2 separate regions of the Homo sapiens genome follow, and region 1 is linked to region 2. A link means that fine-mapping ties the variant in region 2 to the expression of a gene that starts in the linked region. Tissue or cell type: sun-exposed skin. Region 2 holds a variant in brackets; the other region holds the start of a gene. All regions are shown on one strand. Distances are between the middles of the regions.

Evidence for each region. PIP is the estimated chance that this variant, and not a neighbour inherited with it, causes the effect.
Region 1: it holds the start of SLC17A7, and the variant in region 2 is fine-mapped to the expression of SLC17A7 in sun-exposed skin (GTEx, PIP 0.93).

Annotation. Positions count from the first base shown.
Region 1 is chr19:49,437,682-49,445,681 of GRCh38, reverse strand. SLC17A7 (solute carrier family 17 member 7) reads left to right here and starts at 4,155. Exons shown (of 12, transcript NM_020309.4): 1 at 4,155-4,364. The coding sequence starts at 4,303. RefSeq lists an enhancer at 1,752-1,861.
Region 2 is chr19:49,463,172-49,471,171 of GRCh38, reverse strand. It overlaps ALDH16A1 (aldehyde dehydrogenase 16 family member A1), which reads right to left. Exons shown (of 17, transcript NM_153329.4): 9 at 7,223-7,318; 10 at 6,909-7,045; 11 at 6,650-6,755; 12 at 6,410-6,540; 13 at 5,267-5,434; 14 at 4,889-5,090; 15 at 2,606-2,791; 16 at 2,186-2,308; 17 at 122-866. The coding sequence ends at 705. Among named protein-coding and RNA genes, the nearest start is that of FLT3LG, 7.0 kb to the left of the region's middle. RefSeq lists a silencer at 1,669-1,718 and an enhancer at 2,139-2,338. The variant C/T (reference allele first, on the strand shown) is at 4,495.

The DNA of each region.
Region 1 (8,000 bases), 25 kb after region 2:
AGTGCAGTGGTGCAATCATGTAGCTCACTGCAGCCTGGAACTCCTGGGTTCGAGTGATCCTCCCACATCAGCCTCTGAGTAGCTAGGATGACAGGCATGCACCATTGTGCCCAGCTAATTTTATTTTTTGCATTTTTTTAGAGATGAGGTCTTGCTATGTTGCCCAGGTTGGTCTTGAGTTCTTGGCCTCAAGTGATCCTCCCACCATGGCCTCCCCAAATACTGGGATTACAGGCGTGAGCCACTGTGCCCAGCCTAGTTTTGACCTCTTCCTCTAACTGGAGCCCAGTCATACTGAACAGTGTCCTGACCACACCCATTTTCCCTCATCTCTTAGTTTCTGCTGTTCCTGCTACTTTGTATCCTCTTCCCAGTACATCTGCAGAAGTTTCTTTCTTTATTCTTTCTTTCTTTTCCTTCCTTCCTTCCTTCCTTTCTCTCTCTCTTTCTTTCTTTCTTTTTTTTTTTGACAGAGTCTGGCTCTTAGGCCCACGCTGGAGTGCAGTGGTGCAATCCTGACTCACTCTGCAACCTCCCGAGTTCAAGTGATGGTTGCACCTCAGCCTCCCAAGTAGCTGTGACTACAGGTGCCACCATGCCCAGCTAATTTTTAAATATTTTTTATAGAGACGGGGTCTCCATCTGTTGCCCAGGCTGGTCTCGAACTCCTGAGCTCAAGTGATCAGCCCTCCTCAGCCTCTCAAAGTGCTGGGATTACAGGAGCGCCCTGCCTTGATAAATATTTCTTGAGTTAATAAGTGATTGTTGAGGCCGGGCACAGTGGCTCACACCTGTAGTCCCAGAACTTTGGGAGGCCAAGGCGGGCGGATCACCCAAGGTCGGGAGTTTGAGACCAGCCTGACCAACATGGAGAAACCCCGTCTCTTACTAAAAATACAAAATTAGCCTGGCGTGGTGGCAAGCGCCTATAATCCCAGCTACTAGGGAGGCTGAGGCAGGAGAATTGCTTGAACCCAGGAGGCGGAGGTTGCTGTGAGCCCAGATGGCGCCATTGCACTCCAGCCTGGGCAACAAGAACGAAACTCCATCTCAAAAAAAAAAAAAAAAAAAAAAAAGTGATGGTCTATACCCTCCTCTTCTTTAGTGAATCCTAGGATCATCAGTAGATGGAGGAACTTCAGTGGTAAATGCTCAAAGCACAATGTGAGTTAGTGGGGCATGGTGGTGCACACCTGTTGTCCTCAGCTACTCGGGAGGCTGAGGTGGGAGCCCAGGGAGGTTAAGACTGCAGTGAGCTGCCCCTGGGCGACAGAGTGAGACCCTGTCTCAAAAAGGAAGGAAGGGAGGAAGGAAAGGAGGAAGGAAGGAAAGAAGGAAGAAAGAAGGAAAAAGAAGAGAAAGAAAAAGGAAGGAGGAAGGGGAAAGGAAGGAAGACAGAGAAAGAAGGAATGAAGGAAGGAAAGAAAAAAGAAGAGAAAGAAAAAGGAAGGAGGAAGGGGAAAGGAAGGAAGACAGAGAAAGAAGGAATGAAGGAAGGAAAGAAAAAAAGAAAAAGGAAGGAGGAAGGGGAAAGGAAGGAAGACAGAGAAAGAAGGAATGAAGGAAGGAAAGAAAAAAGAAGAGAAAGAAGAGGAAGGAAGGAAAGAAAAGGCAGGCAGGCAAGCACAATGTGTCTGCAATGGGGTGAATTGTGAGGGAGGGGGAGAAAAGACGGGGAAGAGGTCAGGGTGGGAGTGACTTCAGGTAGGGTCTTTCCGGCCGCGGAACGGATGAGCGAACGTGGGCGCCGTGTCCACCAGAGGGCGCAACCTTTCCCTGCCCATCGTCTCAGAGAACTACATCTCCCAGCGGCCCTCGGAGTGCGCGGCCCTTCTCAAACGAGCGCTGAGGCTCAGAGGCCGCTGGGACTTGTGGTTGGGACGGTGAGCCGCTGGAGGGGGCCGAGTAACTCATTCCCAGGTCCTGAAAAAGTGTGCGGCTGAGTCCTTTCCTCCTTCCTCGGTTTCCATGGCGATGGTTTCGGCAAAGGCCCAAGTTTTGGCAGCGGCGGGGCCCGCTTCCCACTCCCTCCTCTTCACCATCTGCTCCACCCTCACACCTGGCCCCAAGCCGCAACCACCGCCTCCGCACCCGGGCCGGGGACTCTGCAGCCACTGGGTGGCGCGTGTGAGCGGCTCCCGCGCTGCTACTTCAGCCCCACGAGTCCCAGTTCCTACCTCCCTCCTGCCTCAGACCCGCAGCGTCCTCCGTTCTGGGGTCCCAGGGGTTTCTCAAAGCTGTGAGACCCAGAGACACAGCCAGTCAAGGCTGGAAGCGAGAGGCTGCGGCGGTCAGTGGCTTCCCGGCCACCCCGTCCTTGGCGCCCGCCCGACGCGCCGTCTGCTCCTCCCACCCCACCGCGGGCCGCATCATGAAAATTTAATACCAAATGCATTTGCGGCCCGACGCGGGGAGGTAGTGGGGAAAGGATCACCCTCCTGGGGCCTGGATCTGGAGGTGGACTCAGCGCCGGGAGATGGGCTGGTCTGAGGACAGGAGCGGGGCGGGACCCTGTCTGCGGGCCCAGGACAGGGAAGGGCCGGGCTCTACCCAACGGGGCGGCGCTGGAATTCCGGCGTGGAGACAGAGTTCGGTGGGCGGGGACAGATTCCGGGGGTGGGAGCAGGACTGGGAGGGCAGGGACAGATCCCAGAGGCGGAGGCGGTGGGCGGGGGACAGATCCCATGGGGCAGGGGCAAGACTGGGAGGGCGGGGACAGATCTCAGGGGCGGAGGCCAGAGCTCGGTGGGCGGGGTCAGATTCCGGGGGCGGAGGCAGGACTGGGAGGTCGAGGACAGATCCCAGTGGCGAGGGTCAGAAGTCGGAGGGCGGGGACAGATCCCATGGGGCCGGGGCAAGACTGGGAGGGTAGGGAGAGATCCAGGGGGCGGGGAGAACTGGGTGGGCGGGGACAGATCCCATGGGGCAGGGGTAGAACACAGAGGGCGGGGACAGATCCCAGGGACGGAGGCCAGAACTCGGTGGGTGGGGACAGATTCCAGGGGGCAGAGATAGATCCTGTGGGGAAGGGGTAGAACTCAGATGGCAGGAACAGATTCCAGGGGGCAAGGACAGAACTGAGAGGGCGGGAACAGAGCCAGGGACAGATCCTAGGAGAAGGGGACACAACTCCAACGGTGGGGAGAGAACTCAGAGGGCGGGGGCAGAACTCAGGTCAGCGACAGATCCTAGGGGAGGAGACAAATTCAGAGGGCGGGTGAGGATGCCAGGGGGTGCGGATCACAATTTAGGGGGCGGGACAGATCTCAGGGGGTGGAGACAGAACTCAAATAGAGGAATGGATCCCCCGGAGCTAGGGAAGAACTCAGAGCGCGGACAGATCCCAGAGGAGCAGAGAAATAACACAATGGGGAGACTATGGGGTCGCAGCTGGCACTGGCGGGGTGTGTGAAATATAACTGTGGGGGGCGGAAGCCAGAGGGAAGAAAATCGGGGTTAGGGAATGAAACTCAGGGAGAGAAGCAACAGGGAGGAGAGAGACGCCGGAGGGAGAATAGAGCTGGAGGAGTATGGGATTCAAAGGGGAAAGATGGAAACTAAGGAGGAGATGGAGCTCAAGGGTGAAGAACCCGGGTGGCGAAAGGGACTAGAGGGGGACGACAGGTGGATCGAAGTAGGCGTTGGACTTGAGGGGAAAGAATTTCCCTTGAATGAGAAAACAAAGAACTCCCTGGATGAGACTATTGGAACTGGGGACGAGGTGGGATGGGGATGGAATTGCGGGGTGGGGGCGGGGAGGAGTGAAGGAACTGGAGGATGAACGCAGAGGGAAAGTCAGAGAAGACAGGATTGTAAGGGACGCAATTAGGGGGAACAGAAGTCGGGGAGAGAAATGATGGGGATGAGAACTCAGGAGAGGAGAGAAAATCTGGGTAGGAGCCAGGGGTGATGGAACAGGGATAGGGGGAGTAGCCTGGGGAAGGAACAGAATTGGGGGGCGTGAACTCGGAGGCGTGAGTTCAGAACCCACAGGCGTGGTCTTGGAAGGCTCAGGAGGGGACAGGACGAGGATGAAAGGGCTGCGAGAGGGGGCGGGTCTGACAGACGAGGGGAGGGGCCTGGTGGGGCCGGGGCGGGGCCTCCCGCGCCCCGCCCCCGGCGCTGAGTCCTGTGACAGCCCCCGGGCCGCCTGCACTTGCAGCCTCCTTCCCCCCGAGCGGAGCTGCGGGGCCGGCCGGGCCGGGGCTGGACCCCGGGAACCCGGACGCGGCCGCCCGGGCCCGCGGGCGGGGGGATCGGCGGGGGGGACCCGCGGGGTGACCGGCGGCAGGAGCCGCCACCATGGAGTTCCGCCAGGAGGAGTTTCGGAAGCTAGCGGGTCGTGCTCTCGGGAAGCTGCACCGGTGAGCCTGGCGGGGGTCCCGGGAGAAGAGTGGGAGGATCTGAGGAGGATGCTAATTCCCACCTGGGCGCAGACTGACAGATGAACGGGCGATACCCCGGCATGGGGGTCCACCCATCTGTCCAGTTTTCTGCCGTGGGCTCCGACGGCGCTGTTCTCCCTGGTCGAGCCTTGTCCATTATCCTGTTCCTTTTTCTGCACCCCACCCCACCCGGCTCCACTCTCTCTGGTGCTGTAAATGCCTCTCTCCCGGGTCTCTGGCTCCTCCCCCACCACTTCTGGGTCTCTGTCCCCGTCTCTTTCTGGATGTCTCTGCCCCTTTTCTCTCTGGGTCTCCGTCTCCCTCTTTTTCCAGATCTCGGCTCCCTTCTCTCTGGGCCCCTCCTTCTCCCTAGATCTCTGCCTCCGCTTCTTTGCGTCTCTGTGCCCCTCTCTCTGGTTCTCTGGCCATTGCTCTCACTGGATCTCTATCAACTCCTGACTCAGAGTCTCTGTCCCCCTCTTTCTGGGTCTCTCCTCTTCCCTGGATCTCTGGTCCCCACTTCTCTGGGTCCCTGTCCCCGTCTCTGTGTTTTAATTCTCCCACCATGGGTCTCTCCGTCTCTCTGTGTCTTTTTCCGTTTCTGTCTGGCATGGAGTTTAATCTGCAGCTAAAGCGGATTGGGGCTCATAGCCCGTTGTCCTTGAGGGGGTGAGGCTGGGTGGAAGAAGTCACAGCACCCTGGGTCCCTGGGAGAGAAAGGAGTTAGAGGCCAAAAATTTCGGCTCCTGGGGTAGGACAGCCTTCCCAAAGGATACAGGCTGGGGCTGACAGGGACTCCCTCCCAACCAGGTTGATGACCCCAGTGAACCGAGTGTCCCTCAGGATAATCTGGACACCTCCCCACAGGCTCTCACCCCCAACCCCAGCTTTGGCTCTAAGTCAGATAAATTACTCAGCTGCGGAAAAGCCTAAAAATATATCTGGCCACAGTGCACGAAGGAGATGGCCTCATCAGCACCATGCCCCTGCCGCCGTGCCCTCAGGCCCTGTCCCCTTGGCCCACAGCCCTGACCCTGTGTTTCGCTGAGCTTCAGTCCACCTCGCTAGGCCATGGGGGTCCTTTGCTAAGTCTAACATCAGTCTTGCTTGCTGCAGATCACCTCTTAGCTCCAAAGTTACCCCACCCTCTAGTAACATGAGAGACAAGAATAAGGCTGGACAGAAGTGGGGGGAGGTGGGCAGGAGGATGGTGCAGTGACGGAGGTTGGTGGTGGAGGGGAAGCTGAGATAACCTCACCCCTTCTTTTTCCAATTTTCCAGCCCCTCCCCACCCTTTTTCTCGCCTCCTTTCACGAGTTTCTCAAAATACATCAGTGTGAAGTCAGGAGAATGAGAGAGAGAGAAAGAGACGTGCTGGTGGAGGGGGCTGGGGGGTGGCAGCGGGAGGGATGTATTCCTCAGGCCCCTCCCTCAGTCTCTGCCTCTGTTTCTCATCTGTGCTAGGGTTTCTCACAGTCAATCTCTCTGGCTCTCACTCTCTGAGTTACCTCTTGGGTCCCCAGAGACCCCCGGGCTCTGGCCAGGACCATCAGCAGGGAGTTTGTGCAGAGAAAAGCATTTGCTTCCAATGCCTGGGGTTTGCTCTGATGGTTGGAGGGAGAGGGGAATACCCCATATTAGAGACAACAGGTTGATCTCATTTAATCCTCTAGACAAAGATGGGGAAACTGAGGCTCCATTCTGGGGTTGGGGAGATCAGTGGATGAGTATGAGCCCCATGATTTGAACCCAGGTCAGTCTCCCTCCCAAGCCTAGAACAGAGCTCTTCCTTGAGAAGAGTGATGCCACAGCTGGTGGGGAGCTTCCTTGCACCCAGGGTGACTTGGAACAAGGACATGGGGGAATGGGATGCCAGAGAGATGAGAACCCAAGGTGCCTCCTTTCTGAGAGCCAGGTCTTGGGCAGGGGGATGCCGAGGGCCAGTAAGGGATCAGGTCCCATTGCTGTTCTTGTCTGTGACCTTGGAGTGCCACTTCAGCTCCCCGAGCCTCAGTTTCCTTAGTTGTACAATGGGAAGAGAAGAGAGAGCAGAGGGACATAAGGAGACAAAGACGTGGGGGAGTGGACAGAGATCCTGAGAGAAGCAGAGAGAGAGAGAGGGAGAGACAGAGAAGTTGAGACATCTCAATTTGGGGTAATGGCCTCCTAAGTGTTGTTTTTCCTCATCGCCAAGTCCCCAGGCCTGAGTTTGGGGTATCCAGGGAGGGGAGGGGGATTTACATCTAGGGTCTCCCTTCTCTGTCCTTGTCCCCTGCAAAGCATCAGGGCCACCTTCATCTCTGTGTCCTTGGTCCTCTTGCTCTAAAATGATTGATATCACCTTGAAGTTCCCTCTTTATTCTCTTGCATTTTTGCCCTTGTCCCATTTTATAGATGTGGGATACTGAGACCCCCTGTTTAGACAGCCTTGATTAGAGATCTGACATCTCCTCATATTAACAAGGAATCTCACATCAGGGGCTGCAATCACATCTTGAGTTTCAGGGTCAAATATCATCCGATGTCAACCTGGGTCAGTCTAATCTCTTTGGGTGATGGGTTCTGATGGGTGGGGGGAGTTACTGCCATCCTGTACTATTCGTCCTAGTGGCTTCAATCCCCCCTATCTCTGGCTCTCTGTCTTCTTCCTCTTGGGGTCTCATTCCTACTCCTTCTGGGTTCTGTCCACTCCCTGGCTTCTCCCACCCCTGTTTCTTAACTGCCCCTCCCCACCTCCTTAAGTTCTAGGATGGGGAGGGGTTGCTGTGTTCTCACAGCTCTTCCACCTCCCTCCCCCTGGACCGTCTGGCTGTTCCTTCCTCCCCCGTCCCAGTCTCCCTCGCCTCCATCTGTTCCAGCCCCTTCCTGGGATCCAGCCCGATCCCCTGGCTGCCTACCCACCTCAGAGAGGGGCTGCACCTCACAAATCACGTCCCCAGCCTGTCTATCCTCCGTCTCCCAGGCTCTCCATCTTTCTCTTGCATTCTGGATCTCTGTTCTCATCTCTCTGCATCTATGTTCTATCTCCTGGGTTTCTGTCCCCGCCTCTCTTTGGGACTCTGTCTGCTTCCTTCTCTAGGTTTCCATCTCTTCCCTCTCTGGGTCTCTGTCCCCCTATTTCTAGGTCTCTCTCCCCCTCTCTCTGGGTCTCTGTCTCCCTCTCTCTGGGTCTCTGTCATCCTCTGTGTCTCTGACCCCTCCATCTCTGGGTCTCTGTCCCCCTCTCTATCTGGGTCTCTGTTCCTCTCTCTCTGGGTCTCTGTCTCCCTTTCTCTCTGGGTCTCTGTCCCCCTCTTTCTGGGTCTCTGGCCCGCTATGTCTCTGGGTCTCTGTCCCGCTGTATCTCTGGGTCTCTGTCCCCCTCTCTCTCTGGGTCTCTGCTCCCCTGTTATTCTCTCTCCCTCTCTCTGGGTCTCTGTCCCCCTCTCTATCTGGGTCTCTGTTCCTCTCTCTCTGGGTCTCTGTCTCCCTTTCTCTCTGGGTCTCTGTCCCCCTCTTTCTGGGTCTCTGTCCCACTATGTCTCTGGGTCTCTGTCCCCCTGTATCTCTGGGTCTCTGTCCCCTTCTCTCTCTGGGTCTCTGCTCCCTTGTTATTCTCTCTCCCTCTCTCTGGGT
Region 2 (8,000 bases):
TATTGGCTCATGGGAGCTGACCTGTTAACAATTCAGGATCTCGCAGGCAGTTGTTTAATCACCTGTACCTTGAAATCCGGCACGGTGGGAGCATTTACATCATGGAAATTGACAAAAGTCATATAGGAGGACTTTAATTTTATTCCAGAGAGTTCCTTTACTGCATATGGATTCTGGGGCCATGAAAAGGTAGAGAAAACCAGAGAGCAAGAGCCACCAGATGGAGAAGACAAGAAGATATGAGAGTCCTAAGGCCCTGTCTGGGGTCCTCGGGGGTCCCCTTTCTCTGTTTCACAAACACAGCACCGTGCTGGAGCCGGCTCCTGAGCTGCTCAACCTCAGAACTAAAATGGCCTCGAGCCAGGTGTGGTGGTGCATGTCTGTGGCCCCAGCTACATATGAGGCTGAGGCATGAGGATCCCTTGAGCCCCAGAGGTCGAGGCTGCAGTGGGCCGAGATTGTGCCACTGCGCTCCAGCCTGGGTGACAGAGCCAGACGTTGTCTCAAAAAAAAAAAAAAAAAAGAAAAAAGCCTCATATCTGCCAGAAGTTGCTACACCCTTTCTTCTCGCAGAAGCACAGCTAGGGTTGGTCAGAGAGTTTATTGGGAGACACAGGAACCAGAAGGGGAAAGTCCCAGGTGTCTGTGGGGTGCATCTCCCCTTGGTGTGAGGTGTCCAAAATGCAGTAGGTGGCGCTCAGGCATCAGTCCCCCATAGGCAGCCACAGGGCCTTGGTCCGCGCCACTCGCAGCCCCAGCTCTGGGCCTGCCCCCTCGGCCTCCTGGTCCCAGGCCCGCGGGCAGCCCCTGCTCGCCCACACCGGTTTGAGGTTTCCTGCCGAGGCCCACTCGACAAACTGGGAACCCTGAGGGGAGGAAGAGACGGGGGTAAGCACTTCTGCAGGCTTGTTGCTGAGCACCTGCTTCCTCCGCGATGAAGACTGTTACTGACGAGGGGCTTCAGGCTGGACCCAGGCTCTGCAGCTACAATGCCCAGCTCCTCCCAAGCAGAACTTCCAGATGGTAGGGAAAAGCACTGGACCCAGTGGTTAGGGAATTTCCTCTCCCTTAACAGCCCATGTTGAAAGGAATGGGCCCCAAGGCTCTTGTCAACAAGTTCACATCTGTTACCAACAGGAGGTTTAAGAGAGTGGACGGTGGGGCGCGGTGACTCGCTCCTGTAATCCCAGCACTTGGGGTGGCTGAGGCGGGAGGATCGCTTGAGTTCAGGAGTTTGAGACCAGCCTGGACAATATGGCGAGACCCCGTCTCCATTTAAAAAGTAAAAATTGGTTGGGCACAGTGGCTCACGCCTGTAATCTCAGCATTTTGGGAGGCTGAGGCAGGCAGATCACGCGAGGTCAGGAGTTCGAGACCAGCCTGGCCAATATGGCGAAACCCCATCTCTACTAAAAAAAAACCCCCAACAATTAGCTGGGCATGGCGGTGAGTGCCTGTAGTCTCAGCTACTTGGGAGGCAGGAGAATCACTTGAACCCGGGAGGCAGAGGTTGCAGTGAGCCAAGATCGTGCCACTGTATTCCAGCCTGGGCGACAGAGTGAGACTCTGTCTCAAAAAAAATAAAATAAAATAAAATAAAATAAAAAAAAAAACAGTAGACTCAACCAGTTGTGCTGGCTCACACCTGTAATCCCAGCACTTTGAGAGGCCGAGGCGGGCAGATCACTTGAGCCCAGGAGTTCAAGATCAGCCTGGCCAACATAGAGAAACCCCAGTCTCTGCAAAAGAAAAAAATTAGCTGGGCATGGTGGTGCACGCCTGTGGTCCCAGCTACTCAGGAAGCTGAGGTGGGACGGTGGCTTGAGCCTGGGAGGTTGCGGCTGCAGTGAGGTATGATTGCATCTGGGTGACAGGGTGAGGTTCTGTCTCAAAATAGAAAAACAAAGCGTAGACTGTGGGCCTCCAAATCTAGGGTGTGGTCCTTAGCAACGGGCTGTCCCCTGAGACGAGGTCTTTGGGCTAGGCAGCTCTCAGGCCCCTGTTGCTAAGGACAGCCTCTTCCTTAGTAACTTGAGTCCTAAGGGCGGGGCCTCAAAACCTTCTTGTCAAGGAGTTTCTCCCCTTACCAACAGGAGTTCTAAGAGGGCGGGGCTGTGTTTCCAGAAAAGGAGGAGCCTGTTTGAAGTTTGAGATGCTGAAGATGGCAAAACAGAACAAAGAGCACCTGGGCTGATCCGAAATACCACATGGCCTGGACGTCTTGGTGCAAGGCCAGGCAGCGGGTCAGATGGTCCCGGTCTCCTGTCACCACGTTGGCCAGGCCTGCTGGGAACACGGTGGCCATGTCCTAGGGGATAGAGAGAGTGAAAGGTTGGGGAGGCCGTGGGGGCAGGGCAAGGAGTGGGCATTCAGGGGGTGCCCATGGGAGGGAAGGGGATGGGGGGTCATGGAGGAGAAAGCCCCAGGCCTAGGGTGAAGAATGGGCACTGGGTCCCCAAGGAGTGAAGGTTTGGGTGCTGGGGCTGGGGGCAGCATGGGTACCACGGAGGGTGGGGTAAGAGACAAGCTCCTGCCGACTTTGGGGCGCCTTTTTCTGCTGCCCTGAGGCTACGGGGAGGAGAGGCAGGAAGGCAGGGGGCTATACCTGGCAGACCTCCAGGGCCAGCAGAGGACAGGCCGCACTGGGCACCATGACCACAGTGTTGCCGTAGGCCAGGGCGGGAGCCAGCAGGGACACGAAGGCAAGCAGGGGCCACTCGTCCGGACACACCACAGCCAGCACACCCAGCGGCTCCCGCAGGCGCAGCACAGGGCCTCTCAGCCCGGCTACCTGCAGGGACAGGTGGGTCACGTGTGGGGCAGGGGAGCCCCGCCCGCAGTAAATGAGAGATCCAGTTCCTCTACATTCTCCCCAACACTTGGTGTTGGCCCAAACCGCACCATTGTGGAAGCCCCTGCCATTTCGCAGACGCTGGTCAAAGTGAATCATTCCACGGGGGTTCGGGCGGTGAGAAACATCCTGCATAACCGCCTTTCTTTTTTTTTTTTTTTGAGACGGACTCTCACTCTGTCGCCCTGGCTAGAGTGCAGTGGTGCGATCTTGGCTCACTGCAACCTCCGCCTCCCGGGTTCACGCCATTCTCCTGCCTCAGTCTCCTGAGTAGCTGAGACTACAGGCACCTGCCACCATGCCCGGCTAATTTTTTTTTTTTGTATATTTAGTAGAGACGGGGTTTCACTGTGTTAGCCAGGATGGTCTCGATCTCTTGACCTTGTGATCTGCCCACCTTGGCCTCGCAAAGTGCTGAGATTACAGGCGTGAGCCACTGCGCCTGGTCTATTTTCTTTTGTTAAAAATAAATATGGTGTTGGGGGGTGGGAGGCAAGGGGAGGGAACTTAGAGGGCAGGTCAATAGGTGCAGCAAACCACCATGGCACGTGTATCCCTATGTAACAAGCCTGCGCGTTCTGCACATGTATCCCAGAACTAAAGTAAAATAAAATTTAAAAAAAAGAAGGCCGGGTGTAGTGGCTCACACCTGTAATCCCAGCACTTTGGGAGGCCAAGGTGGGCGGATCACGAGGTCAGGAGATCGAGACCATCCTAACATGGTGAAACCCTGTCTCTACTAAATATACAAAAAAAAAATTAGCCGGGTGTGGTGGTGGGCACCTGTAGTCCCAGCCACTCGGAAGGCTGGGGCAGGAGAATGGCGTGAACCTGGGATGCAGAGGTTGCAGTGAGCCGAGATTGCGCCACTGCACTCCAGCCTGGGCGACAGAGCGAGACTCTGTCTCAAAAAAAAAAAAAAAAGAAAGAAAGAAATATGGTTTGGCCCATGATATAGTTCAGATGTCCCACCCAAATCTCATGTTGAAATGTAATCCCTGGCCAGGCGCAGTGGCTCACGCCTATAATCCCAGCACTTTGGGAGGTCAAGACAGGCGGATCACTTGAAGCTAGGAGTTCAAGATCAGCCTGGGCAACATGGCGAGTCTCTTGTCTCTGCAAAAATACAAAAACACCCAGTCATGTGTGCTGGTGTGTGCCTGTGATCCCAGATACTCAGGAGGCTGAGGTGGGGGGCTCACTTGGACCTCGGAGGTTGAGGCTGCAGTGAGCCATGATTGTGGCACTGCACTCCAGCCGGGTGCCAGAGGGAGACTGGTGCCAACATGCCCAGCTAATTTATCTATTTTTTGTGGAGACAGGGTTTCACTGTGTTGCCCAGGCTGGTTTCAAACTCCTGGCCTCAAGCGATCCACCCACTTTTGCCTCCCAAAGTGCTAGGATTACAGGCGTGAGCCACCATGTCTGGCCAGGTATTTTTTGTTTTTTGTTTTTTTTTGTGACACAAGGTCTCACTCTGTCACTCAGGCTGGAGTGCAGTGGCACGATCTCGGCTCACTGCAACCACTGCCTCCTGGGTTCAAGCAATTTTCCTGCCTCAGCCTCCTAAGTAGCTGGGACTATAGGTGCCCACCACCGTACCCAGCTAATTTTTTGTATTTTTAGTAGAGACCAGGTTTCAC[C/T]GTGTTGCCCAGGCTGGTCTCGATCTCCTGACCTCGTGATCCGCCTGCCTCAGCCTCGCGAAGTACTGGGATTACAGGCGTGAGCCACTGCGCCCCCAGGTGTTTCTTTACAGCAATGTGAGAACCGCCTAACAGCCCACTAAATTGATTTTAGGGTCCAGGAATGGGTCGCTATCCATCATCTGGCGAACGCTACTCTACGAGGCGGGTTGTGTGCCCACTCACTGTACAGATGAGGGAACTGAGGTAGGGAGAGGTGAAGCCACTTGCTGATGATCCTGCCGTGGAAGGCGGTGGGGCTGGGCCCGAATTCCAAGCCTGGGTTATCTCACAGCCTCTGGTCTGAGCCCCACCCCGCCTGCCCAGCTGGCCCAGGTGCCCACAGACCCTTCACCTGCAGGGTGTGGCCTTGGGCCTGCACCCGGGCCCCCCACGCCCGAAGTCGTCTTGCGCTCAGCTCCACCTCCGCCTCCGCAGCCTTGAGCTCCGCTCCCTGCCTCTCCAGCCTCGAGGCCAGGGTAGACTTCCGGCGCTCCAGTGCAGCCGCCAGGGCCCACAGCAGGGCTGCCCGGGCTCCTGGGGACTGGCCCGCCCAGCTGTGGGCAGACAGCGCACAGTGGGGGTTGGCATCCTGGTCTTGGCTCTCCTGACACCCCACCTCTGTCCACAGCCCCTACCCTGGGGGCCCAGCCTCCCAGTCCACCAATTGCTGTGGGCAGGCTCCCCTCTCTGCCACACCATGACCCTTGGGCTTTCCCGTGTGACCCCTTACCCAGGGAAAGCCTGGTGAGCGGCCTCCACAGCACCTCGGATGTCCTTGGCTCCACCCTCAGCCACGTAGCCATGGAGGTTGCCAGACGAATCCCGGATGGGCCTGGAGCTTCGGGCCCCAGGAGCCTGGAAACGGCCCCCAACGAAGAGCCCATAGGGGGGTGCTGGGCTGGAGTAGGGTGGGACATGAGGAGGAGTCCTGGGGCCTCAATCTGCTCAGACCCTATGCTCTACCGCACTGGGAAGACTGCCTTGGCTCCCGTGAGCCTCTGGGGCACCCCAAACCCCTGTTCCCATGAGCCTCTGGGGGACCCTAAAACTCCTGCTCCCATGATTCACTGGGGGACCCTAAACTCCAGCTCCCATGAGCCTCTGGGGGACCTTAAACTGCTCCCATGAGCCTCTGGGGAACCCCAAATTCCTGCTCCCATGAGCCTCTGGATGACTCAAGTTTCTGCTCCCATGAGCCTCTGGGGGACCCCAAACCCCTGTTCCCACTAGCCTCTGGGTACCCTAAACTCCTGCTCCCATGAGCCTCTGGGGGACCCTAAACTCCTACTCCCATGAGCCTCTGGCAGACCCTAAACTGCTCTCATAAGCCTGTGGGGCACCCCAAATTCCTGTTCCCATGAGCCCCGGAGGACCCAAAGCTTCTGCTCCCATGAGCCTCTGGAGGACCCTAAGTTCCTGCTCCATGAGCCTCTGGGGGACCCTAAGCTCCTGCTCCCATGAGCCTCTGGTAGACCCTAAACTGCTCCCTTGAGTCTCTGGGGGGACCTCAAACTCCTGCTCCCATGAGCCTCTGGAGGACCCCAAGTTTCTGCTCCCATGAGCCTCTGGGGGACCCCAAGCTCCTGCTCCCATGAGCCTCTGAGGGACCCCAAGCTTCTGCTCCAGTGAACCTCTGGGGGACCCCAAGCTCCTAGACCCATGAGTTTCTGGGAGAGTACAGACATTCATGGGGCAGAGCTGAGAGTCTCGGCAGGCCTGGGGTAGGGAAAGTGTGAGGCCACAACGTGGTACTCAGCAGGACTAAGAGATGGTTTGGATGGACCTCGCGCCAGCCCTCCAGTCCACGGGGAAACAGGCATCAATTCCCCTCTCCCCGTTCACACTCCCAGACCACTGGCCCCCAACGACTCACCTGGGCCCTATTTCAGGCCCAGCCGGCAGGGTTGAGGGAACAGCGAGGCCAAAGGTGTCATAGTTCAGGTTCTTGGAGAGGCAGGACAGCCGGGCAGGGGTCCCTGAGGGCCGCAGATACTCATACAGCCCCTGTGAGAGGGACGGTGTCAAGAGGATGCAAGGGGCACGCGAGGCCGGATGCGAGTGTCAAGGGCATGGGGCGGCGGGGGGGCTGGTGACGGGGAGGGGATGTACTCACGTCTGGGCCCCCGTGCCAGGAACACCCACTCTCCTTGCAGCCGCCTGTGGGCACCGAAGGGTCTCTGAGGCCGTGGGCGTTGATCCAGACAGTGCCCACCTGGAGCCTGTGGGGAAGATGAAGGTGTCCAACAGAGGAAAACAGACGGTGGCAGGCCGGGAGAGGGGTGAGTTAAAGGCGCGGGGAGCGACCCAGGGAGAAGGGAGATGAAGATGGAAGAATGAGGAGAGGAGTGAGCGCCCGGGCCACGCAGACTGACCCATAGCCCAGCTCCAGCGCCTGCCCCAGCCTCTCGCTCCACACACTGGCGCTGCCCCCGCGGGGCGTCCCGTTGGCCACCAACAGTGCCTCCTTGGCTGTGCGGAAGGGGGAGGCCACGACCACAGGCCACGGCACCTGCAAGGGGTGACCGGGAGGCTCAGCCCTCCAGGGCCCACCCACCAGGGAAGGAGCCTAGAGCAGGCAGCAGCCCCCACGCCCAGGTCACATGGTTACCCCAAGGGCTTCCCCAGGCACAGAGCTGCTGCCCTTGGCTGGCGGTGGGTAGGAGCTCTGCAGCCTTAAGGGTCTCACCTCCACCTGGGCACATGGGGAGGCTGGGGGCAGGTTGGAGACCAAGGTTGGGGGATAGAATGGGCGTTCCGAAGGCACATCACCAGCCTGGAACACCTAGGGAGAGAAATGATCTAGAAGTCGACTTCTGGTCCCTTCCTGCTGAGACCGAGGACTGCAGGACCCCAGCCCCTCCTCCCTCAGACCCAGGAGTCCAGGCCCCCAGCCCCTCCTCCCTCAGACCCAGGAGTCTGGACCCCCAGCCTCTCCTCCCTCAGACCCAGGAGTCCAGGCCCCCAGCCCCTCCTCCCTCAGACCCAGGAGTCTGGACCCCCAGCCCCTCCTCCCTCAGACCCAGGAGTCCAGGCCCCAGCCCCTCCTCCCTCAGACCCAGGAATCCAGGCCCCAGCACCTCCTCCCTCAGACCCAGGAGTCCAGGCCCAGCCCCTCCTCCCTCAGACCCAGGAGTCCAGGCCCCCAGCCCCTCCTCCCTCAGACCCAGGAGTCTGGACCCCCAGCCTCTCCTCCCTCAGACCCAGGAGTCCAGGCCCCCAGCCCCTCCTCCCTCAGACCCAGGAATCTGGACCCCCAGCCCCTCCTCCCTCAGACCCAGGAGTCCAGGCCCCAGCCCCTCCTCCCTCAGACCCAGGAATCCAGGCCCCAGCACCTCCTCCCTCAGACCCAGGAGTCCAGGCCCAGCCCCTCCTCCCTCAGACCCAGGAGTCCAGGCCCCCAGCCCCTCCTCCCTCAGACCCAGGAGTCTGGACCCCCAGCCTCTCCTCCCTCAGACCCAGGAGTC